2 linked regions of the Homo sapiens genome follow. The protein of the gene in region 2 purifies or fractionates together with the protein of the main gene of each other region. This does not show direct contact. Each region holds a gene or a part of one and is shown on either strand. Other genes may lie near its edges. The genes, in order: MOCS1 and UROS.

Region 1 (10,914 bases), on a different chromosome or scaffold from region 2:
TGCAATAATGTCAGGTTTGGGGGCATGATGGGAGCAGCAGGTGAGGGTGAACTCATGGCCCCTCTGGAAATGTCACCCTGATTCCTTCCTTCCTTCTGTGGGGCCCTGAAGTAGCTTCTGGTTTATTGGGAGCTCCTTTCCAGCTCTCATGGAGCTGCAGGATCAATGTGCATTTTGCCTGGCCCCCGCCATGGTTAGCCCCTTCCACCAGGCCAGGGGCTCAGCTCTGAAACCAGAAATGGATGTTACTCATATCTAACAAGCATGTCCTGTGCATTCGTCCCTGTGGGGGATGTCGGGACCCCTTCTCGTCAGGGCTATGCAGACTCACAGGCAAGACCAAACAGAGGCAATGTGTGGCAGCACGAGAGTCCTTGCCACACGCGTGGCTAGATAGCCTGTGAGAGTGCAGGGCATCAAGAGCACTACAGACCTCAGCGAGCCTTGAAGAATGGGTGGGGCAGAAGTGGGGAGGGGAGGGTGCATACATAGGGTTCATACTGGTTGGGCGGGCTAGGGCAGATTAAAGTCAGCTATGGGAAGACTACATTGTAGGGGGCTTTGGTTCAGAATGTGTTCTGTGGACAATAGTGTGCTGCGTAAGGTTCCTGAACAGGGGAGACATCCCCCATGTATGTTTTATAAGCCACAGGCTGGGTGTGATGGCAGGAAGACCAATTAGGTGGCCATTCAGTGGTTCTCCAAATATGTTAGAGTGTGAATTGAAGGGAAGGAAGACTCAGAGAGCTTGGTAATGTTCGCGGAAGGAGAGGAGGAAGGCATCAAGGTAGCTGGAAGGCCTTGGGATCTTTTACAATTGTGGGAGGGTGATGATGGTGGGTTGGGTTTAGATGCATGCAGTTTGAATCCAAAAGGAACCATCCAGCAGGTTGCTGAAAAGCTTGGGGGTTTTTCTGGGCTGGAGATACGGAATTGACTTGGACTAGAGGTGGTATCTGTATCTGTGAGGTCTTGGCAGGAAATGGAAGGTGGGATTCTGAAGAGAATGTAATGAAGAAGCTATTTATAACATATAAGATTAAGGGAACCAATAAAGGATATTGAGGTACTTGGGACCAGCAGCAGCAAAGTGCTGTTCCCACTTAGGAAGGGCAAGGGGGAGGCACTGATGTCACTGGGGCCCAGGAAGGGCTGGAGCCTTAGAAGAGAGGCCACCTCATTGGCACTTGAGCTGTGCAGAGAAGCAGCTGCTGCCAGATACATCAAAGCAGGGAGGAAGTAGGGGAGAAATGCCTGAAGATTGTTCTTTCCCTTTACCCATTGATCTCCCAGGCAGGAGCCAGCTGGGGGGCGGGAGGGGAGGGTGGTACCAGGTGAAGTCCACAGGAGGAACCTCTTTGTTGCAGAGAAGGGAACCTGGAGGCTGGTTGGGGAGCGAGGCATGAGGAATAACAGGCACGCTGAAGCAGTTAGACCTATCCTAGATTTCACTGGTATCTTCTCCAGTGGTCTCTGCCTGCAGAAGCTTCTCAGACATTCTTCTTTCTCTGTGGCCACAGTGCCTTGTGCAGAGCTGGCACAGAGTAGATGCTTCATAAGTTTTGGTGGAAGGATGGTAGGTATATTGATTTCTGGGGCTGTCTCATCCATCCCTCTTACAGAAGCTGAGAAGCATTGAGTGAAGTTTGACCTTAAGTTGTCATGCCCAGCAGCCCTCAGCTGAAGCTTCCAAGCAGTGATCACAGACTCAAATAGGTACAGGGCAGTCAGGTGATGTCCACAAGGGACTTGGAGGGGCTGAGGTGAAATGGGATGTGTGTGCCACAACAGGGGTAGGAGACTTCCAGGACACACACAGCTCCAACTGGTTGGGGGCCATTCTCATGGTGATAAAGTGGCCATTCCAGCAAGTGTCTCAGAAGGTAGAGATCTGGATTTTTACATGCTATCTCTGTTGGCATCTACTTAGTTTTTTAAAAATACACTGAGGGAAGTATGACTGTAACTCACATATAGGTATTGGGAAGTCGAATTTTGCCTCTTGCTCTTCTAGCCTCTCTGACCTCCCTACAGCACCTCTGTCTCTCACTGCTAGGGGCCCTGCCATGGGAGGCCTGGGCCCTGGTGCTCCTCCCGGAGGGAGAACCAGGGAAGGAGTTAGCTCCTCAGAGGCCAGGAGGCCAAGGCTCAGGGGTAAGGAAGGCATATTGTCCTCACCCACATGTAGGTCTGCCTCTTTGGAAACTCTGAGGTATCCCTGCGGGATCACCTGCGAGCTGGGGCCTCTGAGCAGGAGCTGCTGAGAATCATTGGGGCTGCTGTGGGCAGGAAGAAGCGGCAGCATGCAGGTAAGTGCAGGGTGGGGAGGGCTGGCCTGGATGGTGAGTGGGCCTTGTCCCTGGGAGGGAGGTGTGGAGTTGTGGGGTGAGATGACCAAGGAACACCTAGGGGGAAGCTGGCGAGAGTCAGCATCATCCCCACTACCACTCACTGCTGTTGGCCCTCTGGACTCAGGGTACAGTGATGCTTCTCCTTCCATGGGGAAAAGTCATAGCAGAGGCTGCACAGGAGAGGGGACCCCAGATTCTCTTGGGCTGTTTTACTAGGTGGGGAGAAGGGGGTGTCATTGCTTCTTTCTCATCCCACACGTGGCCTTCTGTTTAGGGAGGGCAGGGTCCTGATGTCCACAGACTGTTCTTTGGGCTCAGCCTTGAGCGACCTCGCAGTGCACATGTGGGGGCCTTTTGTCATACAGCTGAGTGCATGTGCTCGGGGCTGTCAAGCGCGTTTGTTTCAGTGAACTCTCCTCTCCCCGCCCTGTCCCTCTCCCGCTCCCCTGCTTTCCTCTCCCTCTCCCCTTCCCCTGCTTTCCTCTCCCTCTCCCCCTCCCCCTCCCCTGCTTTCCTCTCCCTCTCCCCCTCCCCCTCCCCTGCTTTCCTCTCCCTCTCCCCTCCCCCTCCCCTGCTTTCCTCTCCCTCTCCCCTTCCCCTGCTTTCCTCTCCCTCTCCCCCTCCCCTGCTTTCCTCTCCCTCTCCCCCTCCCCTGCTTTCCTCTCCCTCCCCATCTTTCCCTCACCCCAGGCATGTTCAGTATTTCCCAGATGAAGAACCGGCCCATGATCCTCATCGGTGGGTGACCCATCAGTACGTAACCACTCACCCTTGTCATTTGGGGATCTCGTGGGGTGGGAGCCGTGCCATAGGCACCCCCAGCTCCTGCATTTCATGCTGATTTCTCATCCTTGTTTTTCTTCTATTCCTCCTTCATCTCTTCTTAACCTTCAAGGTTTTACTGTTTCTTCCCCCACTGTTCATGATCCCCCTTACTATACCTGCCACAGAAATGATCCTTCTGTCTCACCAGACATCAGAGCAGGGGGATGGTCTGCCAGATTTAATGATCACTAAGTTAGTGGCTCCCTGAGAATTGAAATCCTGGTTAAAACAGAGGCCTTTTCCTCGGCTCTAAAATCTCCCATTTGGATAATGTGACAGGTGTCCTCTGTAGTACCCAATGATCCATGCACGGTGTATCTGGACCATGAGCCCCCACGGGTGGATGTGTGGCCAGACGTCTGTGCTGGGCAGATCTTGAGGCAGCAAGTTAATAATGTTACTCACATGTAACATGAGGTAATGATGGCCAAGACCTCAACTTCCCAATTCCTTAACTCTCAGGAACATCTGCATAGGATGTATCATCGTGTGTGTAGGATGCTTCAAACAAAAGCCCCCTGGTTTTAAGTCCTTATGTGGTCTCCTACCCCTGGGGGCTGGGCTGGTCACTGAGGAGCTGTAGGGTGGCTGTTGCCCCTCTGTCACGGTGCCCAGATTATAGCAGGTGAGGCCTTGACCCTTTGCTCGCAGTCAGTTCTGAGCCCCCTGAACTGTGCCACTAGGAAAGAAAAAGCAGGGGGGAGAAAAGATGAGAGGAAAGATCCTTTCTTTAGAGGTTAGAGCAGAGGGAACTCAGTGGCCCAGAGGGGAAGGCAGGCTAGAGACAGCCCAAGGACCATCTTTGCCCACTGGCTGCCCGGGAAAGCAAAGGTAGCTTGCCACTGGGAAGAAGACTCTCATCTCCTCTCCTCCCACCCCCAGCATCCAAGTCCTCTTGTTGGGCCCTGACCCATGCTGAGGCACCTTCATGGCCTTGATGGCATCTCCCCAGAAGGGAGGCTGCCCCTCTGACATTGACATGTCTGGGGCTTAGAGTATGATGCGAAGTGGGAAGCTGGGGGAGCATTTGCCTCATACTTTCAGAGATATTGAGTAACCAGTCTGCTTTCTATACAACCAAGAGTTGCCTAGGACAGGGCCTCTCAGAATTTCATGTGCATGTGAATCACTGGGGATTTTGTCCTTTTGGATTGACTTGGAAGGTCTGGGGTGGGATTCTGCATCTCTTGTGAGTTCTCAGGTGGTGCTGGTGCTGCTGGTGCTGCTGGTCCATAAGCCAACCACCCTTTGAGTAACAAGAGCCTGCACCATTCCCTAGGCCCTCTGCACCATCTGAATTAGCCCGTCAGTTTGTATGTGCTTCTCATGTGCTTCAGGGGACTTGAAAAACATTTAAGTAGATCACAAATTCCCCTTATTATCTTGTCTGTAAACTAAGTGGTTATATTAACTCTTCATGGAGAATGTGAAGATAAAAATAGGTGTAATTGGTAATTTAGAGTGAGACCTAGCTCTAGTTTTAAGAAAATGAAGGGACATTCAGAGGTCATGTGATCCAGGCCTCAACTTGGTGCTGCTTGAGAGAACTTGGGAATTGAGAAGGTTTTCATGTGGAGGGAACCCTGTGCCACGGTGGCACAGCAGTTTCTAGGAGGGCTGTTACCCTGTACATCACTGGGTGAGAAGGGCTGTGAACTTGGACTCTGGGTGCCATCTATCTGTGGATCTTCTACTTTGTCTTGTCCCACTATGCTTTTTGTTCTTCATTCCTCTTTCCCCGGTATGAAAGAGAACTTGAGGTGGGATAGGGAGAGGGTTGGGGAGTAGAGGTGGGAAAAAGAATTGCCTTTTGGACTTAGTGTTTCTTCTCTTTTCTTCTTGCCTTGCAGAGTTATTTTTGATGTTCCCCAATTCCCCACCAGCCAATCCAAGCATTTTCTCCTGGGACCCGCTCCATGTTCAGGGTCTAAGACCCAGAATGAGTTTCTCCAGCCAGGTGGCCACTTTATGGAAAGGATGCAGGGTCCCCCAGACCCCTCCTCTAGCCCAGCAGCGGCTGGGGTCTGGCTCCTTTCAGAGACACTACACTTCCCGTGCAGACTCAGATGCCAACTCAAAGTGCCTTAGCCCAGGTTCCTGGGCTTCTGCTGCCCCCTCAGGACCCCAGCTAACCTCAGAACAACTAACTCATGTGGACTCGGAAGGACGGGCAGCTATGGTAGATGTGGGCAGGAAGCCAGACACAGAGCGGGTGGCTGTGGCTTCAGCCGTGGTCCTCCTGGGACCGGTAGCCTTCAAGCTTGTCCAGCAGAACCAGCTCAAGAAAGGAGATGCCCTAGTGGTGGCCCAGCTGGCTGGAGTCCAGGCAGCCAAGGTGACCAGCCAGCTGATCCCTCTGTGCCACCACGTGGCCCTGAGCCACATCCAGGTGCAGCTGGAGCTGGACAGCACACGCCATGCCGTGAAGATCCAGGCATCTTGCCGGGCTCGGGGCCCCACCGGGGTGGAGATGGAGGCCCTGACCTCTGCTGCAGTGGCCGCCCTCACCCTGTATGACATGTGCAAGGCTGTCAGCAGGGACATCGTGTTGGAGGAGATCAAGCTCATTAGCAAGACTGGTGGTCAGCGGGGGGACTTCCATCGGGCTTAGCACCTGCCCTTCTCACCCATGGCCCACCCAGGCCTGGAGCTGGGATGCAATGTAGGCTGAGGGAAAGACGTCAGGTTCCTTTAATCACAGTCACTGTTTGTTTACCTTGAGCAGTAAACCCGAAGTCAGCCTGCTCTACTACTAACAAACAGGCCTGCTGCTAGATGATCTCTAATGACCAATGGGGCTTCCTTTCTATAGGGAGGATACCAGCAGGCCCTTAAGCCTTCCAGGACACTAAGGTCGTGGGAGCGGGACTGCAACAAGCAATGCCAGATAACTGAGAAATCATGTTCTTTGTGGACTATTTCAGACAACCAGGTTCCGACAGTCCAGCCCAGAACTTTTCCTTCTCATTTTGGGTTTTCTCTTCTCCTGCTTTCCTGGGGAGAGATTAAGCGCTCATTAAGCAGAGGAGCCCACTTTGAGGAGAGCAAAGCACAAGCTTGCCTGAAGAATGGATCCCAACTTCTCCCCGGCAGCTCTGCCTCCCTAAGTCTGTGAAGCCGCAGCCCTGCCCTGTCCTGTCCTGTCCTGACTTCATCTCTCCTTCTGCCCAAGTCTGTGTCCCATCAGACTTGCAGCCTTTCAGCTTAACAGTTGCCCGGTCCTGCTGGCCCCTTTTCCTCTGGCCCCCCTCTTCTGAAACAGGATGTGCACACATGGGCCATAGCCCTAAGGACTCCTGCCAGACCACACAGCCCACACCTGGCCCTGTTCACGGCTGTTCCACCCACCCCTCTTTATTCTGGAGCATATCAGGGAAAGAAAAGTTGATGATAGATTGCCTTCACCCTCACAGCGCACAAATAAAGCTACGATGCCAACTTTGCAGATGCAAGAATGAAGACACTGTGTGGGTAGGGCACTGAGCTGCTGCAGTTTCACAGGGAAGGCTGCACCTATCAATCAATCAATCAATCCTATCCCAAGACACAGTTCCCTGAGGGAAGAAGAGGAGGGACCTGGAAAGGCCTAAGGGTGTACTCTCTGTATAGCCCCGCTATGGGAAAATAAAGTGGAGTAGGGGGCATAGAAATGCACCATCTAAGGGAAATCTTTTGTCAGGTGGTGGCCAGGGGTGTTCAAAGCTCATTGCTTGCATTACCAGCTATTAGAGAGATCAGAGAGGGCAATTAATTAGAGGCTCCTGGTTCTCACATCCCAAACACACACAGTTCTGGCCTGCTGGGCTCTCTAACTTGGATGTCTTTGAGTCCTCAGTGGTGCCCCCTGCCTGCCTCCCCTCTGCCCTATGCCAAGGTGTGCTGGCAAATATTAAACAACCAGCTCTCTGGAAAAGACAATTTGTGATATAAATACTCCCATGTTGAATAATTTCAAGCTACCAGTATGTCAAATGGCTTGCAAAATTTCTGAAAATGTAAACAATTGGTTCTCACAGAGCTGGTACAAGCTGGCTCCAGCACACTCTCAGCCCACCCCAGATCCCCTCATAGGAAGAAGGCACAAGTTTAAAGGCAGACTGGGTAGGGATGGTATGAATTTAATATTTTTTAGTATTACAATATATTCTTATAAAAAAGGTGCAAGTGAAAAAGGACACTGTAGATTATGTCCATTAGCCTCATTTGTCATCTGAGGCAGCTGGTGAGAACAGCCTTGGCGTGAAGGCATCCCTGGTAGAAGTCGGGGGAGATAGATAGTCACAGTTCCCCAGTTGGTGGAAATGGGATGGGAGTAGGGAGAGGCTGGAACAGACCCTTCCCCATTCACCTGGAGAATTTTCTCCTCCCACTGCCCTAAACACTTTATTTCCATCACAGGGGAGAAATGCTGCTGAGAAGGTTGTGTTTGTTAGGTTGATGACGAATTTTACATTGGCCACAAAATTAGCTAGAGAAACTTATCTAAAGGTGGCAGGAGCAGTGGGGAGGGCATGAAGAAAGCAAGACCAAGAAACAACCTATTAAGGACCAGCTCAGCCACCCCGACTGGGCACCAGCCCCTTCTTACTCAGTTGAGTATGAGTCCATGGTCCAAGGCACTGTTGGAGATCTGGCTACAGTGGCATCTAGCACCAGAGCCACTGGCCAGATGTAGAAAATAAATAGAAAAATATCTTTCTTTTAGAGTGAGAAGGCTGAGCTCTGGAACAACGTATTTGTGTCCTCTGTCAACAGTTGAACCAAATTCTGCTTTTCTGAAGATCAAATGTATCTTGAACAGCTTCCATAGTCCTTTTGTTTCCAGGTGCGTATCCAGTCTTCCATGGTGGGTGGGAATGCCAGACACGCTTGTGGAGCCCTCCCCTGTTCCCTGCCCCTGAGGGGGTTAGGTTGACATCAGCCTGGTCAGTTTGGGAGAGGACCTTTAGAGGCCTCACCCACAACCTCCCATCTTCCCCAACACTTGTCTTGCAGTGGGAGCTCTTGGGGCTGCAGATGCATATAGCCAAACTCTCTGCAGCTGTTCTGCCTGGAAGCCTTCATCTTGCCCTCACCTGGGTTCCAGGATGGCCTCTTCACACCTGTGTCAGCCAGGCTTGCACTTGCTCAGATCCCTCCCACCAGAACACACACACACCGCCCGCCCCCTCAAACCAACGCACATGCTGGGCTCACCGACCCTGTGTTTCTTCCCCCCCGCAGCTACTACGGTCCCAGCCCCAGGAGTTGGATGCAAGTGAAAGGCAGAAGATAGGCAGCTGAGAGTAGGCCCAGCTCACCAGTCTCCACTGGCAATAACCCTGAGCCAGGGATTAGGTTGGAAAGTGAGAAACACAGGGAAGGGCAGAAGGGCCAAGAGCTCATTGATGGTAGAGGTTAGGCAGGGCCAGTCTCAAAGAAGATGAAAGGCCAACTCGGAACGTGGTATTGAATAAGAGCCTTGATGGAGTTTTAGAAAAATTTTGTCTAGATACAGCCATCCCATCCACCAAGGCCAGCATGAGATGGACAAAATGGAAGGTGGCAGTGGATGGGAGGACCAGAAGGAACCCCTTGCAAGTTGGGCTGAAGAACCAAATTGGGTACCAGAAATGGGGTGGCCCCCCTCTCAGCCTTCCTCCTTGGCACCTTCAGGTGATGTGCTCCCCAGAGGATATCAGCCTTCCTCCTCCATCCCCATCTCCCCAGTTTCCCTTGCCTGCTCTGCTGTTCGCACCATCTGAACGCCTGAGAGGAGGGGCCACCCTTAGAGACAGCATGTTAATGTAGAGGGCAGCTCTGGCCCTCAGACCTCTCAGGAACCAACTCCCCAACGCCAGTGGACACATGGTTCCAAGTGGCCACCTGCAGGCTGGACAGAGGCTGCTGTGGCTTCTGCCTTGAAGCTAGTGTTAGAGAAGGGGTGGGAGGGCCTGAGCAATTTATATGAAGTAGAGAACTATGGGATGGAGCTAAGCATTCAAGTGCTGCCCTCTGCTGAGGGGCTGTAGGGGACTCCAAGGCAACATTTGAGGTCACTGTCTGGCTTCACAACAATGGCCAGGTGTCCAGGAGATGGGGACATGGGAGATGCCCAAAAGGCATGAGGTGTGGTGATGCATGAGGTCTGTCTTGAGCCCCTCGCCAGATTCATCAAGCACCTGGTAGTGAGCCATAGCTGTGGAAACCCAAGGTGAGTCTTCTAGGACTGTGGATTAGTAGACAGGATGGAGGTGAGGGTAGAGAAGGAAGGGAAAGATACTTAAGACATGCAGGGAGAGGCCAGAGGACTTGTGACATGGGAAACAGACACTGCTACTCTGTCCTGATGGCTTTGGTCCCTGCATCATCCTTCCAACATTGACTGTTCTCTGGAACCTACCAGAGCTGATCTAACTAGAATATATAATGCCTCCTCTGTTCCCATTCAAGAGGAAAGTTTGCCCCCAGGTCAATGTTCTGTTGAGCCTCCCCTTGAGAGAAGGGAGTCTGGATTCCCTCACCAGATTCCCTCTCAGGGGCTCCCTCCATCATTGCTCCCCGTGCTACACAGGAACTCTGGACAAGGCTGTGGACCTCTCCAGTCTAGATCTGGAACTGTTCTGTGCCAGCACATGGGTGCCCATGGTAGGGGATGGGGAGCAGGGCCCCTTCAGCCTGGGGTTACCTGGCCTGAGGCCATCCAAGGCAGCCTCAGAATAATACCTGGGGCCAGGGCACAGAAGGAATCATGTGAAGGGGAGATAAGAGGAGCCCCTTAAGGTAAGCGTGGGGAGACACCTGGTCCAGCCACACACAGCCCCCCATCCCAGGACCCAGCCCAAGGCTCTAAACCAAGCACCAAATGGTTTAAATATCACCACCTCCTCCACTCAGCCCCATTCTCACCAGTCCCTGTCTCCCGGCCTCCTGTGTGGCTAGTTCCCCAGGTCAATAATTTAGCCGGTTTATTGCCCGCTCCCGGGTAACTTCCAGGGCCTGGCTCCCTGATCGCTTGCGGCTGCGCTTGAGCTTGCATAAGTCCTTGTCGAAGACCTCCCCAGAGCGCAGGGCCGACACCAGGTCATCGAACTCTCCTCCCTCCTCCAGCGAGCTGCCTGCAGCCAGGACCTTCCGCTGCCGCTGCCACCGCTCACGTTCCCTCTGCTCCTTCAGCTGCGGGCGGGGGGCCAAAGATAGGAACCCTCTCAGGGAGAGGCGCTGAGGCCAGGGCAGCCCCCCAACCCTGGGCTAACTCCTAGGCCATGGTCATGCTGCCTGCCTGTATCTGTTGGCCCCACTTTCTTCCTGCCTAGGACATACAGGCCCCCAGCTTCACACCACTCTCTTCCCTCAGGCTGGGAAGAAGTTTCTCTCTCCTGGGGCTGACATCCAACCCCTATGGTGTTCCTCAGTTCCTCAGTCTCTGCCCTCCTCCCACACACCCCAGTTTGGGGGTGTTCTCCCCAAGTAGCACCCGTCTCCCCTCAGTCCCAGGCCTGGCACTGCCCCTCACCATGGCTTCCATGCGCGCCCGCCGCTCCTCCTCCTCCTTCCTCCTCCTCATGGCCTCTAGATCCTGCCGGGCCTCTGAGAAGGCCTGCAAGAAGGTATCAAAGATGCCAAAGAATTCGTCTGGCTGCATCTTGCTGTCATGCTCCCCGAAGTGCATCAAGGCCTTGGCGAACTGTCAAGGGACAGAACAGGATTGGTGGAGAGTGCCCTGGAGCATGCTGGGCTCAGCCCCTGAGGTTAGCTG
Region 2 (11,121 bases):
CTCCGTCCCTCACTATTAGAACAGTATGAAAATGGCAGTGCCCATTAACAGAACCCTGGGTTTCAGCCTGAGCAAACACCTTAATAAATGCAATTGAACAGCTTCCTAGCTAACAATTATGGAGTGCCTGTTGTATGTCAGACCCTGTGTAATGAATACTTCACGTTCATTACCCCACTTAACCCTAGATAACAATCCAGAGGCACACATTGCTATGATCTTATGTCTTATGTTACCATTGAGAAAACTGAGGCCAGGATAGTAAGCACAGAACAAGTCAGTGCAGAGCCAGGCCTCACACTCGGGCCACCCACCTCCACAGTTACACTGATGAGCGGAGGCAGCGGGCAGAGTGGTTATGCAAGGGCTTTGGAGTGAGTTAGTCCTGGGTTTATGCAGCCATTTGGACATTAATGAGTTCCTTGACCTCTCATCATGGGATTACTACTAATAGTAATGGGATTATCTACTAACAGTAGACTATTAGTTAGGTAGAACTTACTGAATGCTCACTCTGTGCGAGACTCTGTCCTGAATACTTTTTCCTGTGAGATAGATGTGCTTAGTATTTTCACTTGGCAGATGAGGACCCTGGAGAACAAAGGGTATGGAACTTTCCAGGCCCCCACAATGTGTAAAGCACAAGTGCAGGATTCAAGCTGCAGAGTCTGAGTCCCAAAGGAAAGCATCCAGGACATTACCTGGAGCAGAGTGGGCATGGAGTAAGTGACAGTGGTGAGTTTTGGTTATTCTGTCTCCACATTTAACCAGGCTTCGCTGTAGCCTAAACATCCCACCTTCTTGGTGATTTCATACACACATTCACCTCTTGTTGAAAAGAAAGCGTGAGAACCTAAGAAACTCAGAGCCAGCCAGGCGCAGTGGCTCATGCCTGTAATCCCAGCACTTTGGGAGGCCAAGGTGGGCAGATCACTTGAGGTCAGGAGTTCCAGACCAGCCTGGCCAACATGGTGAAACCCCATCTCTACCAAAAAATACGAAAGTTAGCTGGGCGTGGTGGCACATGCCTGGAGTCCCAGCTACTCAGGAGGCTGAGGCACGAGAACCACTTGAACTCAGGAGGCAGAGGTTGTATGAGCCGCGATTGTGCCATTATACGCTAGATGGGGAAGCATGTGTACTCTTTCCCAGTGGTGCTCTGGGTGCTTTTTCTTGCAGTTGTATTTTTTCTTTTTGTGTATGTTTTGAGGATGAAGATAATGAAAAAGAGGAAAACCCTAGAAAGGTCACTATAACTCTTTCTGGTGCTTTATAATAAAGTTTAAAATGCATTTTCCCATGTATTTTCTTATTTTGATTCTCACAACAACCATAGGGAATAAGCAGTAGGAGTGTAGTTAATCCCAGTTACCTTGATGAAGAAACAGACGAGGTGCGTTAACTGACTTACCTGGGACACACACGTTAAGGGGCAGAGCTGGCTCTGTGGAAGGCTTTCTGACTCCACCCAGTGCTCACTCCAGTTGTTCTGCTGTGAGGCTTGGAAAGTAGTTTGTTTACATGCTATGGATAACTTTTGAATAAATACTATTGATATTTATGGGGTAGGAAGCAAAGTGGAACTCAATCTTTGGTTACCATTTCAAAGGGAATTTCCCTTAATGTAAAGGGTAGAGGAATGCTCTTGAATTTAAGGGAAAGTTATGTTCATAACCAGATTTTGGAAAGGAAGAACCATTATTTCCCTGTTTTCTAAAAATGTAATGAATGCCCAGTAGCTTTATGATATATTTATACAATCCATTTTCTCTTTGTGTTTCTTTAATCTATATTTAAAGATTTTGTTTGATCATAAAATGATAATATTCTGTATCAAATTGTGTTTGTTAATTGACCTGAAATTTATTATTTTTACTTTGGTGTAATGGATAAATGAACCCTCTCCTCTGAGATTACAGTTTGTTGACTGCTTTCAGATTTATGTCCCAAATAAACCAATTGGATTTCCTTGTTAGACATTTAAGTTGCTTTTTTTAAATGACCAGTGTCTTTTTCTTTAAAAGTCTAGATTTAAATTTTTGATTTCACTATGCAGATTAATTCTTCAAGTTATGTTGATTTCGTGGTTCCCATTAAAATTCTTCTAGTACCAACTGTGGAGATAGGCTAATATTTCAAGCAAGGAGTACTAAAACATTTATGAAAGCAATTTTTTAAAAATTGCCTATAAAACATGAACAAAGTGAAAATGGAATTTTAGTTTGAGATGCTGTTTTTTACATTTGGTTGCTAATAGTTTGCTTTGCTCACAGTTTCTTAGGGTGAACAAGCAGCCTTGGGCAACAGTCCAAATGGCCACTTTGGTATTTGCAATTCACATATCATTTCATGTTTTACAGTCTGGGAAAGGTCTCTGAAAGAAAAATGGAATGCCAAGTCAGTGTATGTGGTTGGAAATGCTACTGCTTCTCTAGGTAAGGAGTCAAGGTAAAAATAAAACAACAAAAAATGGCTTAGCCTTTTCAGTTTTAAAAAACAGTTTAACTCAGTTTAAAAATATTATTTTTTGCTTATTAAATTTGCAAAAATTAATTAAGTATACGATACTACTGATAAGAATGCAGTGAAACAAATATAATCAAACATTTCCAAATGGCATTAAAAATTGGTTTACATCTTTTGAGAACCACTTGGTCAGTATGTATGCAAAAGCTTTATTAAAATGTTTGTACCCTTTGGCTGACTAATTCCATTGTGAATGTACATAATGCCACTGAATTATGCACTTAGTGATTAAAATGACAAATTTTATGTTATATTTTTACTATAATTTTTTTAAAAGCCTAAATCTCCAGATAGTGATATCATAGTTGTTTTTTTTTGGTTTTCTTAATATTTTGTGCATTTTTCCAGTCTTGAGTCTATTTATTCTTCTTAAAGCATAAAATGTAAATAGTAATCATTAAAAATTAACATTGAGCATTTTAAATACTTAAAACAATGCTTAGCAATTGTCATAAATTAGCCTGTAACTTTGTTTCAGAACAGTTCAATTTGTCCAGTGAATTTGAAAATATTAGAGGAATGTATAATATGAGTGAAAATAGTTTAAGAATTAAAAGCACATTTTCCAGAGAACAAAATGAGGCTGGGGAAGAAACCAGTTGGGAGTTGCTAAGCTAATTAAAAGATGATTCCTAGATCTTCTGAGCAGCATGACTTTTACCACAAGCTCAGCAGATCAGCCAGGGAAAGGGAATTAGTGGCTTGGTTGCCAAGGAAACCATCTTCCCTCCCGCACATCTCTCTCCAAAAATAAGTTAAGAATTTGCTTGTTACTTTCTTTTATCATTTTTTCCTGAATGAGAAGAGGAAAGAAAATAGCCAGTTTCTTTCATTCTCTATATTTCCTACCAAAAACTCAACTATCAAATATACAGTATATTTATACATTTTCCAAACTTTCACACATTCACTGATAAGCAAACATTTTGAGCATCACATCCCCTTCAGTTTGATTTCGGTAGCATCACTATGCATTTTGCTGTCACTGTCCTGTCATATGAGAAGAAAATGAGAAAAAAGACTATGGTGATACAATGAATGATGAGCATCTATGTCTTGAGACTTAGAGTGGCTGAGAGTGGACCATATCAAGTGCAGCACAAGCAGCAGGGCCTTGGTCTCAGTTAGGCACTCACTGGACTCAGTCTGGTCCCTGTTTATTCAGTTGTGAAGGAAAAGGACATGTTCTAAATGCAGGGAACATATTATCAAAGGAGAGAGGAAATTAGAAGTGTTGTAACTTTTAAAAATGTCTTTGAAAGGAAACCACATTTTTCCTTGACATGAAAGTCAATCACCCAACTTTGAACATTCTATTTTAGCTCACCTTTTCAGATATAATAATGTACAAAGGAGCTCTTTTGAGTAGGTACAGGGACAAGGCATTGCTTGAACTCTCTGAGGTTTCTGTTCAACTAGAATCTCAGCAGGAGCCTGGAGAGTTATCAGAAGTTGAGCACCAACAGCTGGGAGGAGACCAGGCCCAATGTATTATCTTTGCTGCGTAACAAATTACCCCCAAATTACCCCAAAACTTACTAGCTAGAAACAGGCATTTATCATCTCAATGTTTCTGTGGGCCAGAATCTGGGCATGATTTAGTGGGCTTCTCTGTAACCAGGCCATGGTCAAGCTGGTGGTCAGGGCTACAGACATTTTGAGGCTTGACTTAGGGGAGGGTCTGCTTCCAAAATCACTCACATAGCTGTCAGTGGCCTCAGAAGATCTGCTTCCCAGCTCACTCACATGGGCCTCCCGAGAGGGCTACCTAAGACATGGCAGCTGGCGTCCCCTGTCGCAAGGCAATCCAAGAGAGAGCAAAAGAGAGCACCTACCACTGAAGCCACAGTCTTTTTATAACCTAATCTTGGAAGTGGCATCCATTTCTTCTGCCATTTCTTTTGGCTTGAATCAAGTAAGTCCAGCCCACACTCAAGCGGAGGGATGACACAGGGGCATGGATCACAGGGATCATTAGGAGCCACTTTCCACTGCCCACAAGCCCTCTAGTCAAGAGCCACCCCTGGCTCCCTAGAGCCTGGGAATCAGGTTAGGAAAGTTGGACATTTGAAGCAAAGAGAAGACAAGGTAGACATTTTTCTTGAAGTAGAAATGAAAACAAGGGTCCAGTGAATAGCAAGGGATTTCGGTGTGGAAGTCCAGTGAGAGAAGATGCCAGTATTTCTTTATAAATGTTGCACGCTGACATAATTTTACAGGTATTATTGATTAATAATAGATGGCAAAAAGTACATGCTGGCTGGGTGCAGTGGCTCACACCTGTAATCCTAACACTTTGGGAGGCAGAAGCAGGCAGATCACTTGAACTTAAGAGTTCAAGATCAGCCTGGGCAACATGGTGAAACCCTGTCTCTATTTATTTGAAAATAAATTTTTTTCAAAAGTACATGCTATGTAACATTATACAGAAAGTCCTCACTTAACATTGTTGATAGGTTCTTGGAAACTGCCACTTCAAGTGAAATGATATATAATGAAACAAATTTTTTTTTCCTTATCAATGTTGTAATGAAAACATGTTGAATGAAACGATGTTATTCAAGGACCTGCTGTATGTCGTTTCACTTACAGTGGCAATTTCCAAGAATCTATTGTTGACATTAAGTGAGGACTTACTGTACTTGGTCTACATAAAATCTCCTGAGAACATTATTTGGTTCAATAATATATGCATATTTTAATAACATTTTAATTTTTATTGAAAAAGCAAAGATGGTTGGCTTGTGGTTTGATACCTTGCAACTCAGCCAGCCATATCCTAGGAAAGCCTTCCATTTGGCTGCCCAAAGGTCAGGTGCCCCAACTTTCCCATCTGATTGCAAAGTTGGACCTGGGCGCCATTTAGTAGGCACTGTTGCTTGGCCTTGTAAACCCAGACCAGTGATGTCACAGAAGATAGCTTAGCAATTAACAACTTGGAATTCATAACACAGAAAGACTGTACCAGCCTGGGCAACATGGTGAAATCTCTTCTCTACCAGAAATAACAAAAATTAGCCAAACTTGGTAGTACATTCTTATAGTCCCTTTAACTGTGGCAGTCAGTGTCTTAACCTCTCAAATATAAAAAATACTCTCTGGCAGGTTTATTTAACACAGTTGGAGACAATTTGAAGTTTCACTGTCAGCTTTTACTTGGGCAGGGCCCTTAAGATGGGCTTACCCAGCCAGAGTGTTGGTTGAAATGTTGTACTGACTTGAAGCAGAGTCAGTCTTGCCACATGCAGGGACTGAGACCTTAGACCAAATATGCATTCCCCAAACATTTCTTGAGAGCCATCTGTGGACTGTGGGGTGGACCGGGTAGCCCCAGTCTCTGCCCTCACAAATAGAGCTGGCCACTGCTTAATAGCTTCCTTCCCTCTCAAGTACAGTAGTAATTGTTCTGTTCACAGGGTTGTGGTGTGAGGATCAAATGAGCAAGTGCTTACTTTGTGATCAGCAAAGCTATATATGAGAGTTAATGTTCTGGTTATGGTTATTATTGTTTCATTACTTGGGAAAAATGCATATTTATGTCAATATTGATTACCAGCGTCACTGCTAAGTTCTTATGTCTCAGTTCAGTTCCTGTGGGATTTTTACAGGTTTTTTTGTTTACTTTTGTTTTTGATGCGTTTAGCTCTTCTAAGCTCAGACAGGAGGTCCAGCCTCGGTTGCCACTGTAGCATAAGCAAGGGCTTAGTTCCTGAACTGAGTTACAGCTTTATTTTTCTTTTGATTCAGCATGTTTTTAATGATCCATAAGTTAAAAGCTGCTGGTGTTTTTATTAAAGCTGCCATTTGTTACTAACCAGGCTCTGTGTGACTCCTAAGTGGAAAGCCCACAGCACTTCCTTCCTCAGAGGCATTCCACATTCCTGTGAGCAGGTAGCAGTGTTGACTGAGCCAGTCCCTTAGGCCTCCCTTCATCAGCACGCTTTGTGGAGTGGCCAAGTGTTTGCTGTCTGGAAAAGTGCAGGGGGAGCCTGAGTCTGTTAGCTTCTTACTTGGTTCATGAATAGGGATCTCACAAAAGTGCTGGTATAGCCCCTCATCCTAAATGACTTGTATTTGTAGCGCTGTGGGTCCCTGTTAGCAGATTATTATGAAACCTTTCCTCCCCTTCCTTCCATTTTAGTCTGGCCATGTCAAGCCATAACACCTTTCTGGATGTGGTCTGGCCACATCCTCCCAAAAAAATGAAGGCTCTGTAATGCCGATTCCTGCAAAAAGTACCAAATGCCCATCATCTCCTTCCTGACTGAAGAGAAAACAGCCTTTGTTGAGCACCTTCTAGATGGCAAGCACTTTGCTCTTATTATCTGACACGATCCTTAAAACAGTTCCATGTGGTTGGTTTTTCCCCCTCTTGTAGATGAGCTATGTGGGGCTCAGGGAAGCTAGTTAAGGCCTTACTTACCCAGCCTACACAACTGGGGTGCAGGTACCAGGACCTGATGCTTTCTCTTCTGAACAGACACTTGTGATCTTCCCTCAGTAGCTTTCAAGAAAAGACATCCTCTATGTGATTTGTAAACTGCATACCTGTGTATTTGCACGTTAAAAAATAACGCTGGAACAAAAGGACTTCAATAACCGTGTTAAGAAATACATTTCTTTGTGGTTTTCCAGTGAGTAAAATTGGCCTGGATACAGAAGGAGAAACCTGTGGAAATGCAGAAAAGCTTGCAGAATATATTTGTTCCAGTAAGTAGAAAAACATCACTCCAAATGAAGCCATTTATTTTTTGTTGACCTCACAACCACTACCTAGGGAAAAGAATATTTCCTCAGTGCATTCTTGGTGGTGAGATTGATTGGTGAGCATCGTATAACCCACTCTGGGAGCATAGCCTATTTGTATTTGTGTATGTCTATACTTTGTGAGGTTTAGCCCACTTCCTTCTACCCCCTGTACCAAAGAACTTGACTTGAACATAACACAAAATAAAACATTTGGGAGATAAAAACAGTGGAGAGATCACTTGAGGGATTCCAAAGAGAGCAGAGGCAGGAGGTGTGAGTGGGTACTCTCCCCTTACTGAGGACTGTCCTTTCCCTTCTCAGGAGCTACTTCTGTCTCTGAATTCCCTCTCCCAGCTTGCTCCCAGGTAAAGAACTGACTCATGATTGGGCTGCCTGTGGACTTGGATTTAAAGTGGCACTTGTTCTAGGGGTGTTAGCATTTAAATGGGGACTTAGTCTTAAACTAATTATGGAATTGTAGGCTTCAGAAGATACATAGGCAAAAATTCTTGGAGCAAGAGGGATGGGAAGGCTGACCGTCTACTTGTAGGGCAGCCCCACCTCTAAGGTGCATCTCCCTTCCTCTCTGTTCCCTGAATGTCCAGTACAACCGCAAGCTCTTACACCCTTGTCATTTGACTCCTCTGCTGTAGGTGTAAGATCATACACCCCCATGAGAGCATGAAGTAGAACTATCTTATCTTAGATTGCTGAAGAGGAGGAAATCCAGGCTTTCCTAGAGATCATGAGCTGGCAAACTTCATCTGTTAAGGATATTTTGGGCTTTGCAGGCAAATGGTCTGTCAGAACTACTAATCTCTGCAACAGAAGCATGAGAGCAGCCATAGGAAATAAACAAACAATGGGCTTGGCTTTGACCCCAGGCTAGAGTTTTCTGACCCCTTTCTAAAATTGCTTGAGTGTCTGCTGAGCTGGGAGGCCAGGGTCAGATGAACTGCTGACAGCTGAGAGTTTCCTCTAAGGTGGTCCCAGGAGAGGGGTATATGCCTTGGCCCTTGGGTGGTGAGATCAGGATGAGTGGTATAGGGAGAGAGTATACCTTAAATAGGTCTCTTTATGGCTTCTGAAACAGTGATAGATGGTTTTGTTTCTGGTAAAACAAAGTATTTATGTTATTTAAAAAAAATACTCCTAAAGGTGATGTTGGCCTTTCTTGACGTGCAAACTTGTACACTAACGTCTTATAAGGCATTACTTACAAGTCTTCCTGCCGTAAGTCATTGCTGTTGCCTGAAGGTTCTCTAGCTTATATTTTTCTTTGTGTTACTGGGAGCTTGTTCTAGAGAAAGTCCTGCGTCTTTTTCTACACTGTGGTCTGAGGATCCCTGGAGCTTAATTAGGCCCCTGACAGAGTCGTCTGGGTTGGGGGCGGCAGTGAGCAGTCAGGGAACAGCAGAGATACTGCTGGGCTCAGTGGATCCTTTCCAAGTTCTCCAATTCTCCTTTTTTCTCTTTTCTAATTTCTTTTAAAAATAACTTCGTTGTACCTTTCCTGAGTCACTACATGCTCGGTGTTAACGTTGAAGACTAGCATTTACTGAGTGCCCAGCGTGTCTCGGGTACATAGACACGTGGCCTGTATGATGTCATTTAATCTTCACCATCACCCCATGAAGTCAGAATCGTGTCCACTGCAAGCTGTGCTGGCCAGTACAGTAGCCACTAGCCACATACGGCTATTTAAATGTAAATGTAAATTAATTGAAATTAAATACAATTGAAAATTTAGTTCTTCAGTCACACTGGGCACATTTCACAAGCTCACTTGTCACTGTGGCCAGTGGCACCAAATTGGACCACACAGAACATTCCCATCATCACCAAAAGTTCTTTCTGACTGTGCTGCTATAGAGACTCTTGGGGGTCCAAGGCCCAGATCTTGTCCAAGGTCACAAGCTATGAAGTGGCAGGCTGGAATTCACACTCAGCACAGCAAGGCCACTGCTCATCCCATGGCCTGTCACATTCAGAGGCCTGACTGGCATCTGCTCCATGCCGACCTGCTCTCAAGGAGATGCTGGCCAAGCACCTCCATCCACTCTGATTTACAGTGACTGGGGCTCCTGCAGGGATGAAGACGTAAGTGTGCTTGACTCTGTGTTTGAATCTGGTGGGCAGAGGCTTAAGGAGCCTCCGGTTTAGAGGAACTACACGGGCCTTTTCTGGCCACTCAGATGAATAAGCTGTAGTCCCAGAGTGTTTCGGCCACTTGGCAATCCTGAGCCTGTGCACTCCTTAGTTCAGTGGATGTGCGTTCATCGGCTCGGACATGGCTTTCAGGTATTAATGCATTGACTGACGCCTCTCTTGCCCCACCCCCCATATTGCTTCCCACATCACAGGAGAACAAGTCAGTTCAATATGGTTCGGCAGATGTTTACCCAGGAGCACCTGTGTGCCAGGCCCTTTGCAGGGCGTTGGGACTGAAGAGGAGTTTAACTCCATTCCTGTCTTCTGGAAGTTCCCAGCCTAGCTGGGGCTGGAGGTGGGGTAGGGTGGGGAACATATACATCAGTAACCGTGATAAGGCAGGGTGGATTAAGTGACCAGAAGAGGTATGAACAGTTTTTGTATGGTGGGCCTGCTATTAAGATACCTGTTTCTACCTGTAAAACACTCAGGATACCAAATAGGTGGGGTTTTTCCTCATATCAATGACCAATTCTCCAATGCTCCAGATAACAGCTGGGTGTCCTACAACTTAATTTTGACATTACCCAGAATTAACCCAGACCCCACAGCTTTAAGGGCTCAGTCTTAGCAAACTGTCCCCCACTTTAGATACAAGTATTGGATGCTGAGGGACCTCTGTCCAAGTTGGCTACAAGTCAGGAGTTCTCACGACTCCCTACTCAGGTTCAGTAATTTGCTAGAATGGCTCACAGAACTCAGGGAAACACTTATGTGTACTGATTTTTATAAAGGAGATAACAAGGACACAGATAAACAGCCAGATGAAGAGGTCTGGAAGGGTCCTGAGTACACAGGAGCTTCTTCCCCCATGGAGTTGGGGTGCGCCACCCTCCTGGCACATGGATGTGTTCACCAACCCAGAAGCTCTATAAACTCATAGTTGAGGGGTTTTATGGAGGTTCCATTATGTAGGCACCATTGATTAAATCATTGACCCCTGGTGACTAGCTCCATCTCCAACCCTTTGATCACATGGTTGTGATCCTCTGTGTGGCCTTCAGCCCCCATCCTGAAGCTTTCTAGGGGCCACCACCAGTCACCTCATTAGCATAAACTCCAGTATGGTTAAAAGGGGTTTATCATGAATAACAAAAGATGCTCCTCTCACCTCTAATGGGAAGTTCCAAGAGTTTCAGAAGCTCTGTGCCTGGAACAGGGAGGAAAACGAAATATTTCCTCTTGTATCACAGTGTCATGTCAGGGTGTCCAAAAGAAGGCAGAGGTCTTCAGGAAAGTCTGTACAAAAGGCATGGCCTCCTCTCCACAGAGAAGGGCAGGCCCTCCCTCAGGCAGTAGCCATGGCCAAGCCCTCCCACTCAGAGGGAGCCACTGAGCAGAGACGTGGAAGGAGAGGGTTTTCCTGGAGAGTACAGCATGGCAGGGGCAGTGGGTGGCAAGCTGGGGAGCACTGAGTAGCCTCTGAGAGTTGACCGGAGCCCTGAGGCACGGGGCCTTACATCAGCCCCTGCGGGTCAGACTCAGGCTGGATTGGTCCTCCCCAGGCCTAGACGGGAACACAACACTGCCTGCTCCCTCTTAGCGGGCATCACTAGGTACAGCCAGGATTGGGCCCAAAAGGCAGTCACTGGATTAGGACCCAGTTCTCTTGTTCCTGGGACTTTTTAGGAGTGT

Evidence for each region.
Region 1: the proteins of UROS (region 2) and MOCS1 purify together in Homo sapiens (affinity purification with mass spectrometry; 3 studies listed by BioGRID and IntAct, with this or other methods). This does not show direct contact.

The regions. Positions count from the first base shown.
Region 1 is NC_000006.12:39,901,230-39,912,143, reverse strand, and holds the end of MOCS1 (molybdenum cofactor biosynthesis protein 1), read left to right. Parts: intron 1-2,188; coding exon 2,189-2,309; intron 2,310-3,041; coding exon 3,042-3,089; coding exon of another isoform or gene 3,090-3,097; exon of another isoform or gene 3,098-3,104; intron 3,105-5,026; coding exon 5,027-5,787; 3' UTR 5,788-7,974; downstream 7,975-10,914. Other genes in the region: DAAM2 (disheveled-associated activator of morphogenesis 2), read right to left, coding at 10,107-10,331, 10,672-10,842. UniProt on the Homo sapiens protein: Isoform MOCS1A and isoform MOCS1B probably form a complex that catalyzes the conversion of 5'-GTP to cyclic pyranopterin monophosphate (cPMP).
Region 2 is NC_000010.11:125,803,528-125,814,648, reverse strand, and holds part of UROS (uroporphyrinogen-III synthase), read left to right. Parts: intron 1-2,360; coding exon 2,361-2,435; intron 2,436-7,161; coding exon 7,162-7,236; intron 7,237-11,121.